2 separate regions of the Homo sapiens genome follow, and region 1 is linked to region 2. The links come from fine-mapping of genetic effects on gene expression. A gene starts in region 2. The other region holds a variant in brackets. All regions are shown on one strand. Distances are from middle to middle. Region 1 has its middle 120 kb from the start of CTNND1. Region 2 holds the start of MED19 (mediator complex subunit 19).

Evidence for each region. PIP is the estimated chance that this variant, and not a neighbour inherited with it, causes the effect.
Region 1: its variant is the best candidate, but not a certain one, in a credible set for the expression of MED19 in breast (GTEx, PIP 0.72).

The regions. Positions count from the first base shown.
Region 1 is chr11:57,872,225-57,882,073 of GRCh38, reverse strand. No RefSeq gene overlaps it. Among named protein-coding and RNA genes, the nearest start is that of CTNND1, 120 kb to the right of the region's middle. The variant A/CA (reference allele first, on the strand shown) is at 5,589.
Region 2 is chr11:57,707,319-57,716,827 of GRCh38, reverse strand. MED19 (mediator complex subunit 19) reads left to right here and starts at 4,613. Exons shown (of 5, transcript NM_001317078.4): 1 at 4,613-4,865. The coding sequence starts at 4,649. TMX2 (thioredoxin related transmembrane protein 2) reads right to left here and starts at 4,235. Exons shown (of 8, transcript NM_015959.4): 1 at 4,021-4,235. The coding sequence starts at 4,209. TMX2-CTNND1 (TMX2-CTNND1 readthrough (NMD candidate)) reads right to left here and starts at 4,305. Exons shown (of 21, transcript NR_037646.1): 1 at 4,021-4,305. RefSeq lists an enhancer at 765-1,275 and a silencer at 4,643-4,982.

The DNA of each region.
Region 1 (9,849 bases), 170 kb before region 2:
TCTTCTTGGAAATGGTCACTATATAAATCTTAAAGAATAGTAATTAATATTAACAAGGAACTCATCAGATATTTATTGAGAACCTGTTATGGGCAGCTGTGTGGATGCTACAGTCTGGTTAGGAGGGAAAAGGATATACACACACATAAATGAAAAGTATGTAATTATTGACGTAAGTGTGGCCCCACCAAAAAGCAAGACAGGAAGTCACTAAAGGGAGGAACCAGAGATCAGAATTGCTTGGCAAGCCCAGCACTTCCCCCTCTCAGCCTATTCCTACTGTTTCATCTCGCGGTGACCACCTTTCCTCTCCACCTCTCTTTAACCTGTATCAATGCAAACCCTACCTCCCTACACCACCCCCCAAAAAATCTTTCCTGATTAAACCAGCCAGAAGTAATTTCTGCATTCATAGAACCTTTCACAGCACTTCTAAGCACTTCTTTTAGGGCACTTAAACCTTTGTGCTGTTCATTATATAATCATTGAAGTACAGTAATATCTCTTCTACCAGACTGTAACCTCCTTGATAATAAAAACCATGATAGTCAAAGGACCTAGGGCAGCTCCTTGCACATGGTAGGCATTTAATTAATATCTATCACATTAATTAATGCATAAAATACCTGCATATAAGCATGAATAAGCAAACAGTAGGTATATGTAGGTAGGATTTGAACATGTGCTACAGAGAGGATATTCAAGGTAAGGTAAGAGAAAGTTTGTTTATTTATTTATTATTTATGTAGGCAGAGTCTCACTGTTGCCCAGGCTGGACTATGGAGGGCAGTGGTGCGATCTCAGCTCACTGCAGCTTCCGCCTCCTGGGTTCAAGCGATTCTCATGCTTCAGCCTCCTGAGTAGCAGGGATTACAGGCATGCACCACCACCCCCGGCTAATTTTTGTATTTTTAGTAAAGACAGGGTTTCTCCATATTGGCCAGGTAGGTCTTGAACTCCTGGTCTCAAGTGATCCACCTGCCTCAGCCTCCCAAAGTGCTGGGATTACAGGTGTGAGTCACCACGCCCAGTCAGATAAGAGGAAGTTTTTGTTTTTCCTTCACAGTGACAGCAGTTTACATGTAGACACCAAATTCATCCAGGGCACATTTTTCTGAGCCTCACCTGGTATCAGTAGATTAAGTAACCATGCTTGTCTTTCTTACCAATCTAAGCCCACTGTTACAGACTCAACAAAAATGTCCACCCTTTCTCTCTTGACTGCATCAAACTATAGAGGCTTGATAAGCCAATTGCTCTTTCCCAGGCCCTTTGTGGCTAGAAGTGATCATATGATATACATCTGGCCAATGAGCTTTAGGAGAAATCAGCCAGCTGGTTCTTGGCTTCTGCAGAAGACATTTCCTGACAAGACCACTGCAAAACTTCTTGTAAACAAAGAATAAATATTCTTACAGCTTAAGTCACCTTGCTTGAGTTTTCTGTCACTTGTAGCTGGACAAATGTAATAGACCCATCTAACAAATATTCCATTAATTCAGCAAGTTATTCTTTTAAGCTCCTACTAAAACCTAAGCCCTATTCTCTTCTCACCTTACACAAAGTTTGCCATCCTCGCACATACTCTATTCTTTTTTCTCTCTTTATCTATTGGGAAATATTGGTCCTTCCTCTCCTCTACTTTACATTTTGTGGGTCCATGAGAAAACACCTGCTTAATTAATTCATTCTATTCCAAAATAGAGAAGGAAGGCAATTAGACTTAACCCATGCTTTACAAACTGACATGCCTCTCAGGTGAATCTTTACAACCACACTTTGTGGTATTTTACGCTCATTTTGCAAACAGAAACCTTAGGCTAATTGTAACCGAGGTAAATGTGATGAAGCCAGATTGTCTTTACCTGTTTAATTGCAAAAGCCATGCTCTTTCGGCCTCCTTGGGCTCTCTCCCACCTACTCTCACTTCCATATAAATTGGCTTCTTTGGGCTTATGCTGTTTAAACAATCAACAAAGTCCACACATTCACCTCCATTTCTATGTCTGTATTTGTCCTTCACAGTCAGCACTTGGTTATCAGCATCCATGGGAAGACAGCAGTTGCACAGATACCCCAAACATAACTCAGTCTCAGAAACCCACAAGGTAATGTGTTTTGACAGCAGATTTTCCTTCTAAGTGCTTGTGGAGGCTAACACTAAGAAAAACTGGAGCTTTCTAAATACTCATCCAACGATGGCAAAGTAAAAAAGCCCAGGCTGAGAAAGGCAGCCACCTGGTAGGGTTAGAAATGACAGCAGGTGGGTGCCGGGCGCAGTGGCTCACACTTGTAATCCTAGCATTTTCGGAGGCCGAGGTGGGAGGATCACCTGAGGTCAGGAGTTCAAGCCAGCCTGGCCAACATGGTGAAACCCCATCTCTACTAAAAATACAAAAATTAGCCAGGCATTTTGGAGCATGCTTGTAATCCCAGTGACTCGGGAGGCTGAGGCAGGAGAATCGCTTGAATCCAGGAGGCGGAGGTTGCAGCAAGCTGAGATCATGCCACTGCACTCCAGCCTGGGCAACAGAGTAAGACTGTCCCAAAAAAAAAAAAAAAAGAAATGACAGTAGGTGGGGTAGTAGGCCCCATGTAGACAGTGGGAAGTTAGCTACACAATTGTATGTTCAGACTCTGAACTCAGAAATTAATACAGATCAAAAGAAAAGCCATGCTCTTTTGACTTTTTCTAAGGAAACGAGGGAGAAGAGGAGGAAGAAACTAGCAGCAGCTACAATTTACTGAGTATCTGCAATGTGTTCCTGTTCTCTCACAAGTAGTCTATCATTTAACTCTTACAGCAAGCCTGGAAGTCAGGAACCATCACATCCTCTCTTTTTAACATAGAGTTTATCATTTTAACCATTCAAATATACAATTTACAATCTAAGTATATTGCATACAATATAGATTGTACATATACAATTTAAGTGCATTCACAATATTGTGCAAGCATCAACACTGTCCCTTTTCAGAATCTTTCATCATCTCAGACAGAAACTCTGTACCTATTAACAACTTCCCATTCCCTCCCTTCTTCCCCCAGCCCCTAGTCTACTTTCTGTATCTATGAATTTGCCTATTCTAGTTATCTTGTATTTGTCTGTTCTTGCACTGCTATGAAGAAATACATGAGACTGGGTAATTTATAAAGAAAAGAGGTTTAATTTGCTTACAGTTCTGAAGACTGTACAGGTAGCATGGCTGAGAAGCCCTCAGGAAACTTTCAATCATGGCAGAAGGTGAAGGGGAAGCAGGGATGTCTTACATAGCTGGAGCAGGAAGAAGAGAGGTGCCACGCACTTTTTTTTTTTTTTTTTTTTGAAATGGAGTCTCATTCTGTCACCCAGAGTGCAGTGGCACTATCTCAGCTCACTGCAACATCTGCCTCCTGGGTGCAAGCGATTCTCATGCTTCAGCCTCCCGAGTAGCTGGGATTACAGGCGGGCACCACCACACCCAGCTAATGTTTGTATTTTTAGTAGAGACAGGGTTTCACCATGCTGGCCAGGCTGGCCTCGAACTCCTGACCTCAGGTGATCCACCTGCCTCAGCCTCCCAAAGTACTGGGATTACAGGTGTTAGCCACTGCGCCCAGCCAGATGCCACACACTTTTAAACAACCAGATATCATGAGAACTCACTCACTATCACAAGAACAGCAAGGCAGAAGTCCTCCCCCATGATCCAATCACCTCCCACTACGCCCCTCCTCCAACACTGGGGATTACAACTGGACATGAGATTTGAGTGGAACACAATTCCAAACCATATCATTGTATAAGTGAGATCATGCAACAGTTGTCCTTTTGAGTCTGGTTTACTTCATTTAACATAAAGTGACGGTTCACACACGTTGTATGTAACCAGATACATACTATATACAGTGGAACACTCTATGGTAAAATTATAGTTAAAATGAATGATGAACTATAACTATGTTATTAGCATTGGCTGGGCATGGTGGCTCATGCCAGCAATCCCAGCACTTTGGGAGGCCAAGGTGAGAGGATTGCTTGAGGCCAGGAGTTTAAGACCATCCTGGGCAACAAAGAGACACCCCATCTCTATTTTTTTTAATAACTATATTAACATCCTGAAGAGTTCTTCAAAATATTATGTTGAGAGCAAAACAGCAAATGGCAAACTAATATGTAAACTCTGGGATTAAATCATAGTTCTTCCACTTTCTAACTGTATATAACTGTGGAATTTACTTCTCTGTGTCTGTTTTCCATCTGTAAAATAAGAATAATAATTGGACCTAATGTTGGTGTCGAGGGACTAAATGGACTTAATATGTACCTTTGCCTTAAAAGAGTGCTGGCACCAATAAATGCTCATGATTATTATTATTACTTATAGATTCACATCAGTAGTAAAATATAGACTTGCTAAAAAAAATTATTCTAAACGTGGAAATAATGGGAAAAGGTGTGGGATGTCCTTTCAATATCATATGGGGACATTATTTAATAGATTTAATAGGTCCACCAAGGGTAATTCAGGAGAATATACTTGATTTGACTCACTGCTTCCTATTGACTAAAAGTCTCAAATTTAGTGAAATTACATGTTAACTTACACATTCTTGTTCAGTAGAGATGCAAATAATTTCTGTCTTATAGAAAAGATAGCCCCAAAGTTTACAGTTTATTGCATATAGGACAAGAACCACTTGAATATCCAATCCAATATCTTATTGTTTTAATTTTTTTGAAAATTATGCTTTCCTGCACTGAAGGATACAAGCCAAATTTATGATAATGGTTGTCTCTCTAGCAAGGGAGAGGCATAGGACTCGGGTAGAATACATAGGGATTTCAATGACCTGTAGTGTGTTATCTGATTAAATATTTATGTAAGGCTGGGCATGGTGACTCATGCCTGTAATCCCAGCACTTTGAGAGGCTGAGGCGGGAGGATCACTTGAGGTCAGGAGTTTGAGACCAGCCTAGACAACATGGTGAAACTCTGTCTCTACTAAAAATACAAAAATTAGCTGGGCATAGTGGCACATGCCTGTAATCCCAGCTACTCGGGAGGTTGAGGCATGAGAATCACTTGAACCTGGGAAGTGGAGATTGCAGTAAGCCAAGGTCACACCACTGCACTCCAGCCTGGGCAACATAGTGTGACTCTGTCTCAAAAAAAAAAAAACACCTTGTAAACTGGGCACAGTGGCTCACGCCTATAATCCCAGCACTTTGGGAAACTGAGGTGGATGGATCACCTGAGGTCAGGAGTTCGAGACCAGCCTAGCCAATATGGTGAAACTCCCTCTCTACTAAAAATACAAATATTAGCCAGGCATGGTAGTGGGCATCTGTGATCCCAGCTACTCAGGAGGCTGAGGCAGGAGAATCGCTTGAACCTGAGAGGCGGAGCTCGCAGTGGGCCAAGATCGCCCCACTGCACTCTGCTTGGGTGATAAAGTGAGACTCCATCTCAAATAAATAAATATGTATGTAGGCCAGGCATGGTGGCATGTGCCTGAAGTCCCAGCTATTCAAGACGGTGAGGAGGCAGGAGGATCGCTTGAGCCCAGGAGTTTGAGGCCAGTCTGGGCAACAGAATGAGACCCC[A/CA]TCTCTGAAAAAATTTTTTAATACAAATAAAAAATAAACATATTTGAAACGTATAACAAAAATATTCATGTTTATTAAGTCAAGTGGTAGACACATCTAAATCTTTGTGTTTTCAATTAAAAAAAAATTACCCAAAAAAATCAAAGTAACAAAGTACTGAAGCTTCTTGTTAGGGCAAGACAAAAAGCTCTGTGCATTCATTTATGCCAAATTATTGACCAGGCACTCTTTGACAGGATGATGGGACCACATAAAGATTTGTAGACTGGAATCCAAGAGACACGGGTTACAATTTTGAGTCTAGAACTAATTAGTTGTATGACCCTGGGTAAGTCACTTCTCATTGAACACCAGCTTTATTTCCTGTTAAGATGAGTGCTGAGCTGGGCATGGTGGCTCACGTCTATAATTCCAGCAGCACTGAAAAATTATGTGCATACCACTCCACTTATGAATTTTCTTTCTTTCTTTTTTTTTTTAGTCAGGGTCTCCCTATGTCACCCAGACTAGAGTGCAGTGGCACAATCTCAGCTCACTGCAACCTCCACCTCCTGGGTTCAAGAGATTCTCTCACCTCAGACTCCCAAGTAGCTGGGTCTACAGGTGTGCACCACCAAACCCGGTTAATTTTTTTGTGTTTTTAGTAGAGATGGTGTTTCGCCATGTTGGCCAGACTGGTCTCGAACTCCTGGCCTCCAGTGATCTGCCCGCCTTGGTCTCCCAAAGTGCTGGGATTACAGGCTTGAGCCAGTGAGCCCAGCCTCACTTAGGAATTTTCTTTAACCCAGTTCCAAACTGAAAAAAAACTTCAGTATAAGGAATTGCAACAAAGTTTTAATTTTTCTATGATGCTTCGATGTTTTTAAAAATTACCATTAAAAGGTTCAAATATATACCAAAGCAGACAGTATAATAAACTGACTTCCATGTACCTATCACTCAGCCTCAACATTTATCATTTTATAATCAGTTCTTGCTTTATCTTTCCACTCTTCCCAGCCAGATTATTTTAAAGCAAATTCCAACGTTCTATCCTTTCCTGGTGCTTTTTAAAAAAATGTCCAAATGAGTCTTTTTTTTTTTTTTTTTTTTTTTTTTGATGCGTCTACTTTGCTGGTGCCCCAAGCATGTTCTTGGTCTTCCCATGTTCGGGACTCCAATCCTGCCTCAGGCACTGCTGTACCGTCACATCTCAGCTGAGAGCCCGCCGGACTGGATACTGTGTAATTCCCTTTAGCTGGAACAATCCATTATTCACAGAACCACAACCACCAGCACTCCAGTAGCCTCAGCTGAGCTCCTCGAGACGCAGTCTCAGGACAGCGGAGTCAGCTGACACAAGCGTAAGGAGGAACCCACCCTCCCACCACAAAGCGCTGTCAGAGAGGGAGGAAAGGAGGAGAGAAGCAACAACTGGGAGATGATCAGTCTGTGTGTTCGCTCCTGGTAACAAATCCCTTGGCTCCTCCTTATGCCCATCAGCATTTCCTGTGCTTAGAAGTTAGCTTCATTTCTGGAAATATCATCTTTTTATTTTTTTATTTTTTGTCTTGTTTTTCCCTTGGATTTTGAGATGGAGTTTCGCTCTTGTTGCCCAGGCTGGAGTGCAACGGCGCGATCTCGGCTCACCGCAACCTGTGCCTCCTGGGTGAAAATGATTCTCCTGCCTCAGCCTCCCGAGTAGCTGAGATTACAGGCATGGGCCACCACACCCAGCTAATTTTGTATTTTCAGTAGAGACGGGGTTTCTCCGTGTTGGTCAGGCTGGTCTCGAGCTCCTGACCTCAGGTGATCTGCCCGCCTCAGCATCTCAAAGTGCTGGGACCACAGAAGTGAGCCACTGCACCCAGCAGCATTTTTTTTTAAATATCATATTTTTTAATTGCTAATATAAACTACCCATTCCATTAACAAGGCCCCTAGTGCCTCCTCCGATGAGTCCCCAGTGGGTGAAGCCTAGAGAGCTTCCTGGAAGGGCCCCAGAGTCCCTGCCCTAGTGTGCTCCCAGCTCCCCTCAGTGCTCCGTCACTGCTGGGACCCAGCCTTGAGCAACAGTGACGGAAGTTTATGACGCAAAAAGGGACTTAGCTCTAGCCCTGGCCCTAACCCTAGACCACTCTCAGCTCCTTACCAACCTCTGAACTTAGTGTCCCCGATTTGTTTGATCAGTATTGAGGCCCACAACAGACCCTCAATGTTCAGCAAAGAAGGCCCCTTGGGTCATTTAGTCAAAAACCTCATAGACTGTCCCCCAGGTTCCTGTAAGCTCCCAAGGGACAAGATGACTTTTCCTCGTTCAGACTTCAGAATCCAAGGAGGAGGCAGGACGTCTCCTACCGGCTCGTGCTAAGACTTTCTACTGCCAAGAACGGAGTGACAATGGCTAGGCATCATGGCTCAAGCCTGTAATCCCAGCACTTTGGGAGAATGAGGCAGGGGAATAGCTTGAGCCCAGGAGTTCGAAACCAGCCTGGGGGGCAACATAGGGAAATCCTACCTTAAAAAAAACTAGAACGACAAACTCCATCTCCTCAAGGAGATCCTAACCCCCCTATCCCCGCTGTGCCTCAAGAACAAAACAAATGCCTGAAATCTAGAGGGAGAGATAATCTCTTCTTCCCTGAGGCCTGAACCTCCCAGGTAGGGAGGTGGTGTGTTTCAAGGACCTTCCAGAGCTCTAAGCCTCCAGAGCCACCAGAGATCAAGAGGAGATGAAGCCAGCTTTATAAGCTCTGGGCAGGACCAAGATGCAACCGTAGCTTCAGTCCTGAATGCCACATCCTGTTTGCCTGAGCTGTGTGTCTTATCAAGTCTGAATGTGTGGCTACCCCAGGAACAGCTTTAGAGAGGAGAAATTGAAGATACAGGCTGGAGTGGAAGGGAGTCCCAGAACTACCCCTACGTGGCTGGCCTGGGAGGATCTTGAGTCCCCCCAGCCATCTTGAGGTATATCGGGCTGGGGAGCACCATCTGCTAAGGTTGGTATTTTTCTATTGCAGATTTTACTGCGTTCCACCAGAGCTGATTCAGAAGGCTGAGGTTGCCTGTTCTCTTCCCCTTCCCTTCAAAATCCACACCCACACCATCCCTTACTCTGTCAGCCTTTAAGCATTTCCTGAGATCCCATGGTATTCAACGGTCTTGAGCAATGTTTTCCAGCTCCCCATTCATCAGGTACGCATAATCTAACTTGGTGGAAGTTAATGTACATCAGGTACCTACCTTGTTTCCAGAAGTGTGCTGAGTACAACATTGACACGCATTGTCTTTCAATCCTCACAGAAACTGAGGCTCAGAGAGGTTAAGTAACTCTGCCAAGTTTCCTGACCCCTTCCAATGCACCTTTTGCCCGGTAAATGTTTACTGAGGTTAATTCCCAGTTCCAGGTGATCGCACTTCCCCATCTCCTCCAACTAGCAACACCTTTCTCATTCCTCAAGGCTCAGCCCCGTGCCTCCTGGTCCTGAAGTCTCCCCAGAGCACCCCAAGCTGCAATCACCCTTCCCTCAATGGGTTCCTGCTGGCAGTGGGCTCCACCCAACTTCACTCGTTTTCATGGAAGCAAGTGTGTCTCTTAACAAAATTTTAAGATCTTAAGTGGCCACAGCCGTGTCTTATGCTATTGTTTAAATACTTTGAACAACTATGATGGTTTAAATACTTTGAACAACCATAATTGTTTAAACCCTTTTGAACGACTGCAATTGTTCAAATATTTTCAGATTATAGTAGTTGTTCAAATAGTCACTGACAGCTTCTTATATAGCTTAAAACAGCCTCTGCTCTCAGAAGTTATGTGATAGGGAAGCAAAGCAACACCATGCAGGAGGGAAGAAAGACTTAGAAACATTGACAGACCCTGTTACACAATTCTAAATATGTGTGTGAGTAAAAATCAACTGCCAGATGACAACAGCACACAAAACAAGGACTCACTGGGGAAAGGGAAGTCTTACTAGAAGGACTGAGGGATGGCATTGCGGGATTATAGAGGAAGCCGGAAGGGATGATAGAGGAGACCTGGAGGGATGATAGAGGAGACCTGGAGGGATGCTAGAGGAGACCTGGAGGGATGCTAGAGGAGACCTGGAGGGATGCTAGAGGAGACCTGGAGGGATGCTTGAGGAGACCTGGAGGGATGATAGAGGAAACCTGGAAATACTCTGCACTTGGGAACCTCAAAGTACACCTGGAAGGCTGTTGCCGAGGTCACAACAATTGAGAATTATTAATAGGTGTGTCTCTGAAGGAATCAAATGGC
Region 2 (9,509 bases):
CCAGCCGCCCCGTCCGGGAGGTGAGGGGCGCCTCTGCCCAGCCGCCCCTACTGGGAAGTGAGGAGCCCCTCTGCCTGGCCAGCCACCCCGTCCGGGAGGGAGGTGGGGGAGTCAGCCCCCCACCCGGCCTGCCGCCCCGTCCGGGAGGGAGGTGGGGGGGTCAGCCCCCCGCTCGGCCAGCCGCCCCGTCCGGGAGGGAGGTGGGGGGGTCAGCCCCCCACCCGGCCAGCCGCCCCGTCCGGGAGGGAGGTGGGGTCAGCCCCCCGCCCGGCCAGCCGCCCCGTCCGGGAGGTGAGGGGCGCCTCTGCCCGGCCGCCCCTACTGGGAAGTGAGGAGCCCCTCAGCCCGGCCAGCCGCCCCGTCCGGGAGGGAGGTGGGGGGGTCAGCCCCCCGCCCGGCCAGCCGCCCCGTCCGGGAGGGAGGTGGGGGGGTCAGCCCCTCGCCCGGCCAGCCGCCCCGTCCGGGAGGGAGGTGTGGGGGTCAGCCCCCCGCCCGGCCAGCCGCCCCGTCCGGGAGGGAGGTGGGGGGGTCAGCCCCACATCCGGGAGGGAGGTGGGGGGGGGTCAGCCCCCCGCCCGGCCATCCGCCCCGTCCAGGAGGGAGGTGGGAGGGTCAGCCCCCCGCCCGGCCAGCCGCCCGGTCCGGGAGGTGAGGGGCGCCTCTGCCCGGCCACCCCTACTAGGAAGTGAGGAGCCCCTCTGCCCAGCCACCACCCCGTCTGGGAGGTGTACCCAACAGCTCATTGAGAACGGGCCGGGATGACAATGGCGGTTTTGTGGAATAGAAAGGGGGGAAAGGTGGGGAAAAGATTGAAAAATCGGATGGTTGCCGTGTCTGTGTAGAAAGAAGTAGACACGGGAAACTTTTCATTTTGTTCTGTACTAAGATAAATTCTTCTGCCTTGGGATCCTGTTGATCGGTGACCTTACCCCCAACCCTGTGCTCTCTGAAACATGTGCTGTGTCCACTCAGGGTTAAATGGATTAAGGGCGGTGCAAGATGTGCTTTGTTAAACAGATGCTTGAAGGCAGCATGCTCGTTAAGAATCATCACCACTCCCTAATCTCAAGTACCCAGGGACACAAACACTGCGGAAGGCGGCAGGGTCCTCTGCCTAGGAAAACCAGAGACCTTTGTTCACTTGTTTATCTGCCAACCTTCCCTCCACTATTGTCCTATGACCCTGCCAAGTCCCCCTCTGCGAGAAACACCCAAGAATGATCAATAAAAGAAAAAAAAAAGAAAACAAATTCTAAGAGGTTATAAAAGGTTTATGGAAATTTTATCTTGTCTAGTCAAAGCTGATCAAGATTAGACAGATTTGTTTGTAAAGTTTATTAAAATCAGCTTTAGTATTAAAAGCACATTAATACATATATATTATATATAAAATATATTTTTTTAATTTTATTTATTTATTTATTTTGAGACAGAACTTTGCTCTTGTTGCCCAGGCTGGAGTGCAATGGCACGATCCTGGCTCACTGCAACCTCTGCCTCTCAGGTTCAAGTGATTCTCCTGCCTTAGCCTCCAGAGTAGCTGGGATTACAGGCACCCACCACCACACCCAGCTAATTTTTTGTATTTTTAGTAGAGACGGGGTTACACCATGTTGGCCAGGCTGGTCTCGAACTCCTGAGCTCAGGAAATCCACCCGCCTCAGCCTCCCAAAGTGCTGGGATTACAGATGTGAGCCACCATGCCTGGCCAAGTGTCTTATTTTCAAGGAGGATCATGGAAAGCATGGGAAGAATGCTGACAAATAAAGGTTTCTGATAACTTTGAAACTGTATCACCGGACTGGGTAAAAATTTCCAAAGTCTAATGAAAATAAAACTGGACTCATAAAATTGCTAACCTCCAGACTAATGTTTTCCATTTTTCACCCACTCTTCTGACTTAGAATCACTAAAAATTAAAACGGCCTTTTTTAGCTTGGCGCAGTGGCTCACACCTGTAAATCCCAGCTCCTTAGGAAGCCAAGTCAGGAGGATCCCTTGAGCTCAGGAGTTCAAGACCAGCCTGGGCAACATCAAGAGACCCCACCTTGAAAAAAAATTTTTAAAAATTAGCCAGGTGTGTAGTGCATGCCTTTGGTTCCAGCTACCTGGAAAGCTGAGGTGGCAGGATGGCTTTGCCCAGGAGGTTAAGACTACAGTGAGCCATGATCACATCACTGCACTCCAGCTTGGATGACAGAGCAAGACCTTGTCTCAAAAAAAAATCCAAAAAACTAAAAACCCTGCCTTTTTCCTAAGGCCTTACCAGCTAAAGCTAGTCAACGTGACTTTGAAAAAAAAATCACCACAAAAGCTTATATTTGGACAAACTTTACACACAACCTACAATCTAGGAAAATAGATTGCTATTAATCTTCCCAATTGACTGCCCTCCAGACTCTAAAGAAACTAGTTTATAGACTATACCAGATATTAAGCTTTGTTTGTCTTGTTCCATAGAAATGTCTCTCTTATTAAATACCTGTTTGCCTACATCATATACAGAGGCCTAGCTTTGAGAACTCATCTACAATGCCATCTTCTGAAATGAGACACAACAATTTAATTGAACTGGACTATCCCCCAAAATGAGAGGCTGGTTTAATGGGATCCTTTGCCGCTCAATTACTAGCCCGATTTCTCTCTCCACAGACACCAACTCAGCTTATAGTGAAACTTCTAAGGAAGTTTCAGACAAAGGAAATAAAGAAGACCAGGGACTCACACCCCAAAATATGGCATCCTGTATGCTAATCATTTTAAATTAAAGGTCCCTGGAAACCAGCAGATACTGGAAGCAGCTTTACTCTGATAACTACCTTATCTGCCTAAAGTCCAGACCTGTCAAAGAAGACAACAATTACTTCTGGTCTCTTCCCTGAGTTTTCATTAACTTACTTCAGTACAAGAAGAAAGATGGAAGCCTGTCAACACACCTGGACAGATTTTTGTCAGAAACCATTGTCTGCTCTGCAGGCCCAACAGTCATTGTCCCAGGCCACTGTATGTTCTCCAGGCCACTGAATCACCCTAAAAATCATTTACGATCCACCTTAAAATCACCCACATTTTCCCATCTCCCATATTCCTATGAAAGAGGGTATATAAGCATCTGTACCCCACTGGGTCATTCTCCTGCAATTCCCTCATGCTATGCACGTTAAAATAAAATTTCTATGCCTTTCTCCTATTAATGTGCCCTTTGTCGGTTGATTTTTCAACAAACCCTCAGAGAGCAAAGGGGAAGCTTTTCCTTGGCCCCTACATGCTATATGGCAGAAGGGAAAGTGCTTTAAGTTTATGTTCCGAGCAGTCCCTCCACCCATACCAAGGAAGCACAGCAAGGAGCTTGGGACACTTCCCAAAGAAATCCCAAAGATTTCTTTACAACGTATTTTTTACAATTCCTTTACAGTAGCCCCCAAATTTTATCCACTTTCGCATCTTCAGGATCAAGCAGAGTGCCTAGAGTGTACACTCTAGAAATGTTTATTGAATTAAGAAGCGGCTGACAGTGTTGTGCAGGTAGTGTGGCCAGAAGAGTAGTTTCAAGTCCCAGGCACTCATTAGTTGTATGACCTGGGGCAAGTCACCTAAATATACCGAGATCCATTTCTTCACCAATGAAACAGGAATATTACTACTTGCCTTGTCTACCTTACTGGCTCCTCAGGAGGCTTTACATAATGAGCGGCACTGTAAAACGTTATACACGTGTATGTACAGTTTTGATAGGGCTGTTAATTAGTCTCAATGGTGAAACAGAAAGAAACCTGGACTCAACAGTCAAAAGCTGTTGGGCCGTTGTGCATGGGCTACGACTAACATGTTCCGTTTTCCCATCTTAAACACAAAGTTTAGACTCGATGATGGTTCGGACCCTGCACTTAATAGTCTCTAAGTCCGCTACAGGCTCGGAACCTCAGGTGTCCTCAGAGAGGTAAACCCCAGGGTTCCCAGATACACCTGCAAGGGCAGGGACAGTCAAGGTCGCGGGGTACTAACACGCGGGAGGCTCACCCAGTCAAAGTCACACGGGTTACCGTCTTCGCGTTGGGTGGGCAGACCGTGGCAGAGCGGCGGCAGTTTCCTCACGAGTAGGAAGGCAGCAGAGAGCAGGGCCGACAGAAGGTAGTAAGGTTGGGCGAGCCATCGTGAAAGTCGCGGCACCGAATACACGAGAGCAATTAGAGGTGCCAAGACCGCCATCTTTTCGGCCGTAACGGCCACTGCTCGCCGGCGTCGTAGGTCTCGCCCCGCCTCCCCCACCATAACGACTGCTATTGGGCTATATCGCAAACGTACGGCCTCTAAACCCGGATGTAGTTCTCTGAACGCTGTGGTAGGTCAGAACCCAAAAAAGAACTTAATATTTTATTGGTTAGTCTAGTTGTCGCTTTATCCGCCTAAGTCATTTTATTGGACTGTAGCAAGCAGAGCTAGCAGAAGACTCTAATAAGGTTAAATAGCACTTCCTGAACGTTCTCATAAGGCGACGGAAGTAGTTGTTGAAAAAAGGTAGGCGGTGCCTGAGGCATCCAATGACAAGCGGCTCCTTGAGAAAGGGCGGGGGGGTACTCCTTGAAAGCATTGTCCAATGAAAATTACCAACGGCAGACACGGAGACAGCGCCGGGGCGGAGGGTACGATGGAGAATTTCACGGCACTGTTTGGGGCTCAGGCTGACCCACCACCGCCCCCAACCGCACTCGGCTTCGGACCAGGAAAGCCTCCACCCCCGCCACCGCCTCCTGCGGGCGGGGGACCCGGCACGGCCCCGCCTCCCACCGCGGCCACGGCTCCTCCTGGCGCGGACAAGTCAGGAGCTGGCTGTGGCCCTTTTTACCTCATGAGGGAACTGCCAGGTGAGTACTCGGCCTTGCCAAAGCCAGCCAATCAAATCTTAGAGAGGAGGTGATGGGCGTGGCTCTCAGCCGGCTAGCGGAGGTGCGAGGTAACCTAGGCAACGCATACCCGGACTGTGGAGCCCTAAGTCGGAAGCGCTGTTAGGATTCACAAGCAGAGGGATGACTTGAATTCAACCAGGATGAGTTGAATTCAACCAAAGGGATGAATGGCGGGCAGGGGCGTAGTGCATCTCCGTTACTGTCTTTTGCACCATGTCCAGGCTGTGTCCCTGACACTGGTTTATGTCTCTCTAAAAAATGACCTAGGGCTGGGCGCGGTGGCTCACGCCTGTAATCCCAACACTCTGGGAGGCGGAGGCGGGCGAATCACCTAAGGTCAGGAGTTCGAGACCGGCCTGGCCAACATGATGAAACCCTGTCTCCACAAAAAACACAAAAATTACCTGGGCGTGGTGGCGTATACCTTTAATTCCAGCTACTCGGGAGGCTGAGGCGGGAGAATCGTTTGAACCCCGGGAGGCGGAGGTTGCAGAGAGCCGACATTGCTCCACTGCACTCCAGCCTGGGCGAACGAGACTCCGTCTCAAAACAAACAAAATCCAGGGTTTGAGTTTGGAACTCGAGAGGCCTGATTTAATATCTTTGGGGACCCAAAGTTTTAGTTACAGGTCTCCCACAGACTTGCTATTGGTTTGGGGCAAGTTGCCATTCTTCCTTCTAAGGTTCCGGCATTTCCTGGTCTGATCAAAAAAGGGATAAGAATCGAACCAAACTCTTCATTCAAAAAATTATTTTGTTGAGTACCTATGTACCAAGCACTTTTCTAAATGCTGGAGACAGTTGTGAACAAGACTGACAAGATGCTTGCCTTTTTTGGGATGTACATTTCAGTGGAGGAGGCATTGTAAACAAGATAATGTCAGAAAGTGGTTAATGCTAGGAAAAGAAAACATGATAAAAATTGAAGGTGGCCAGGCGCGTTGCTCACGCCTGTAATCCCAGCGCTTTGGGAGGCCGAGGCAGAATCCCTTGAGCCCAGGAGTTTGAGACCAGCATGGGCAACATGGCGAGACCCAGTCTCTACAAAATATACAAGATTAACCGGGCGTGGTAATGCATGCCTGTAGCCCCAGCTACTCAGGAGGCTAAGGGAGGAGAATCGCTTGAACACAGGAGGTCGAGGCTGCAGTGAACCAAGATTGTGCCACTGCACTCCAGCCTGGGCAACAGATGAGACCCTGTCTCTTAAAAAAAAAAAATTGAGGGGCAGAACTACTTTAGCTAGAGTGGCCAGAGATGCTCTCTTCACATAGCTAACATTTGAACTAAAATGTAAGCATAGACAAAGGGCCAGCCATGTATGGACAGGAGGGAGAGACAATTGTAGATACAAGAAATGAGGTCAGAAACCCTGATGTGAGAAAAAGCTTAGAATATCTGAGGGACAGAAAATCAGTTGGACTCCAGTGAAGTGAACAAAAGGAAAGAGTGTTAGGGAGAGAGATGAAGCTGGGAGAGTTAGGCAGAGGCTTTTATAAAGCAGTAAAGGCATTTAGATTGTAAATACAAAAGGAAGCCATTTAAAAAATTTTTTTATAGACACAAGGTCTCACTGTGTCACCCAGGCTGGACTGCAGTGGTATAATCATAGCTCACTGTAACCTCCAGTTCCTAGGCTCATGCTGTCGTCCCACCTCAGCCTTCCAAGTAGCTAGGACTACAGGCATGCACCACCACAGTTGGCTAACTTAAAATTTTTTTGTAGAGACTGGGTCTTACTGTGTTGCGCAAGCTGGTCTTGAACTCCTGGCCAACAGCAGTCCTCCCGCCTTGGCCTCCCAAAGTGCTAGGATTATAGGTCTGAGCCACTGTGCCCAGCCAAGGAAAGCCATTTTAACATAGGAAGTTGGTCAAATGCACTTGTTTATAATCATTTAAGCAGCCACATGACAAATAGAAAGTGGGGAAATTAGTCAGAAGTTACTGCTCAGTAGTCCAGGAAAGATAATGGTTTGAACCAGAGCATAGCAGGGCATAGAGAAGTAAATGGATACAGGATGTTAGAGGTAGAGCTGACAGGGTTGAAAAATTGAATACAGGGCCAGGCGCTGTGGCTCACGCCAGTAATCCCAGCACTTTGGGAGGCTGAGGTGGGAGGATTGCTTGAGCCCAAAAGTTTGAGACCAGCCTGGGCAACATAATGAGACCCCATCTCTACAAAAAATAAAAATAAATTAGCTAGGGATAGCAGCATGCACCTGTAGTCTCAGCTACCTAGGAAGATGAGGTGGTAGAAATCACTTGAGCCCAGGAAGTTGAGGCTGCAGTGAGCCATGATTGTGCCACTGCACTCCAGCTTGGATGATAGAGGAAGACCCTGTCTCAATTAAAAATATATATTGTATATAGAAGTGAAGGAAATAGAGGAATTGATGCCTTTTTAAGTTTTCGGCTTGAATAATTGGGTGTATGGGTACGGAGACTTGGAAGATGAGGAAGGAACAAGTTTGAAGAGGTGGAAATCAAGAGTTATTTTGGACATGTTTGGTCTCCAAGATGCCTCTTTTTTTTTTTTTTTTAAACAGAGTTTTGCTCTTGTTGCCCAGGCTGGAGTGCAATGGCACAATCTCAGCTCACCACAACCTCCGCCTCCCAGGTTCAAGCGATTCTCCTGCCTCAGCCTCCCGAGTAGTTCGGATTACAGGCATGTGCCACCACACCCAGCTAATTTTTTATTTTTAGTGGAGACAGGGTTTCTCCCTGTTGGTCAGGCAGATCTCAAACTCCCAACCTCAGGTGATCCGCCCACCTTGGCCTCCCAGAGTGCCAGGATTACAGGCGTGAGCCACTGCGCCCAGCCTCCCAGATGCCTTTCATTGTCTCAAGTCTTATTTCCACATCATGACTTGAGGGAAATAGCAACAAATATTGGTATAGTACTTTGAAGTTCACAACACACTTACATGCAGTATTTAATATAAGTAGTATTTAATACTTAGAATAGCCCTTTGAGGTAGCATTACTGTCTACATTTTATAATTGAAAAAACTGAAACATGGAGAAGTTGACATCCCTTTGATTAGTTAGTGGTTGATGTCCACCAGCGGTTTCTTTTAATCTTTCTTTTGCCTTCCCTATTCTGATTGTAGCTATTTGTATCAGTCAGTTGACAGATATTGAATATATGTTCTGGGCAAATGCTGGGTGTATGAGGCGGGTGAGATGGAGAGAGAGATTAGTAATGCTGGTCATTGCTTTTCAAGGAGTTTAGTTAGGAATGTAAAATTTGTGGTTTAAGGATAGTGACTATATTTCCTGTCACCTCCATCTCATTTTGTGCTCATGCCTCACAACAGCAATTAACAATATCTTAGCCATCAATATTAAGAACTACCTAATGGTTTTCAAAGTGTGTTGCTATCCAGAATGACAGTGAGAATAAGATGTCACTTGAGCTAGACCTTGAATAATCCATATTGGTGAAGAAAAATTAGGAAGAATTTTCCTAAGATGAAATAATGTGAGGGGTGTTTTTTTGAGGCGATAAGGAGATCCATTTGGATGGATCAGAAATTTTGCATAGGAGAGTAGTGGTTGATGAGGCCCCAAAGCTAAGTTGGAGTAAGATGTAATTAGCCTTGAGTGCCAGTCAAAGGAATTTGAGCTTTCTCCTGAGGGCAAAAAGAAACCATTAAGATTTGTGAACTGAGGAGTACTGATTTCCAAAAATATCTGGAACATGTGGGTGCCATGGATTGAAATAGAGAAGCCCTGAGTGATGTTGGCAAGATTTGGAATTTCAAAACAATTTTTTTTTTTTTTATCTTGTTGGGCAGGGTGGTTCACGCCTGTAATCCTAGCACTTTGGGAGGCTGAGGCAGGCAGATAGCTTGAGTCCAGGAGTTCAAGACCAGCCTGGGCAACATAGGGAGACCCCTGTCTCTACAAAAAATACAAAAATTAGCCTAGCATGGCAGTGTATGCATGTAGTCCCAGCTACCTGGGAGGCTGAGGCAGGAAAGTAGTTTGAGCCCAGGATGCAGAGATTGCAGTGAGCTAAGATTGTGCCATTACACTCCAGCCTGGGTGACAGAGCGAGACTGTCTCAAAAAATAAATAAATATAAAAAGTAATCTTTGTAGAATAGTCAAAACTGGAATTTGAACTCTCAAGTTACAGTTTAGAAAAAGCACAGACTGCCTTCTCACCTGAGCCTTAAGGATAACCATCTGGACAGAGGAGAGTTGGCAGAGCAGGGGAAATTCAGAAGATTGTAATGGCAAGAGGCAGTGCCCAGAGTTATGAGGAGAGATACTGTGACATTGGGTCTCCTGCCATTACCCTCGCTCAGTCTTCTGAGTTGTTTGGTAGTAAAGGGAAGGAAAAGGATGAATAAGGCCTAGAGGTATAGAGGGAAAGTGCCTTGTTTATTTAATAAATATTTATTAAGCACCTAATGTGTGTACTGTGCTGGGCACTAGCGATACATGAATGAACAAGACATTGTCTGTGCCTCCAAGGAGCTTACAGTTCAGTACCTCAGTTTTCCCAAGTGAATGATTATAAACAAGCCATTTTTGTCATTTGTACCCTCTGTGTCTATCATAATTACAAATGAAGTTGTAGTTAGCTATTTCTACC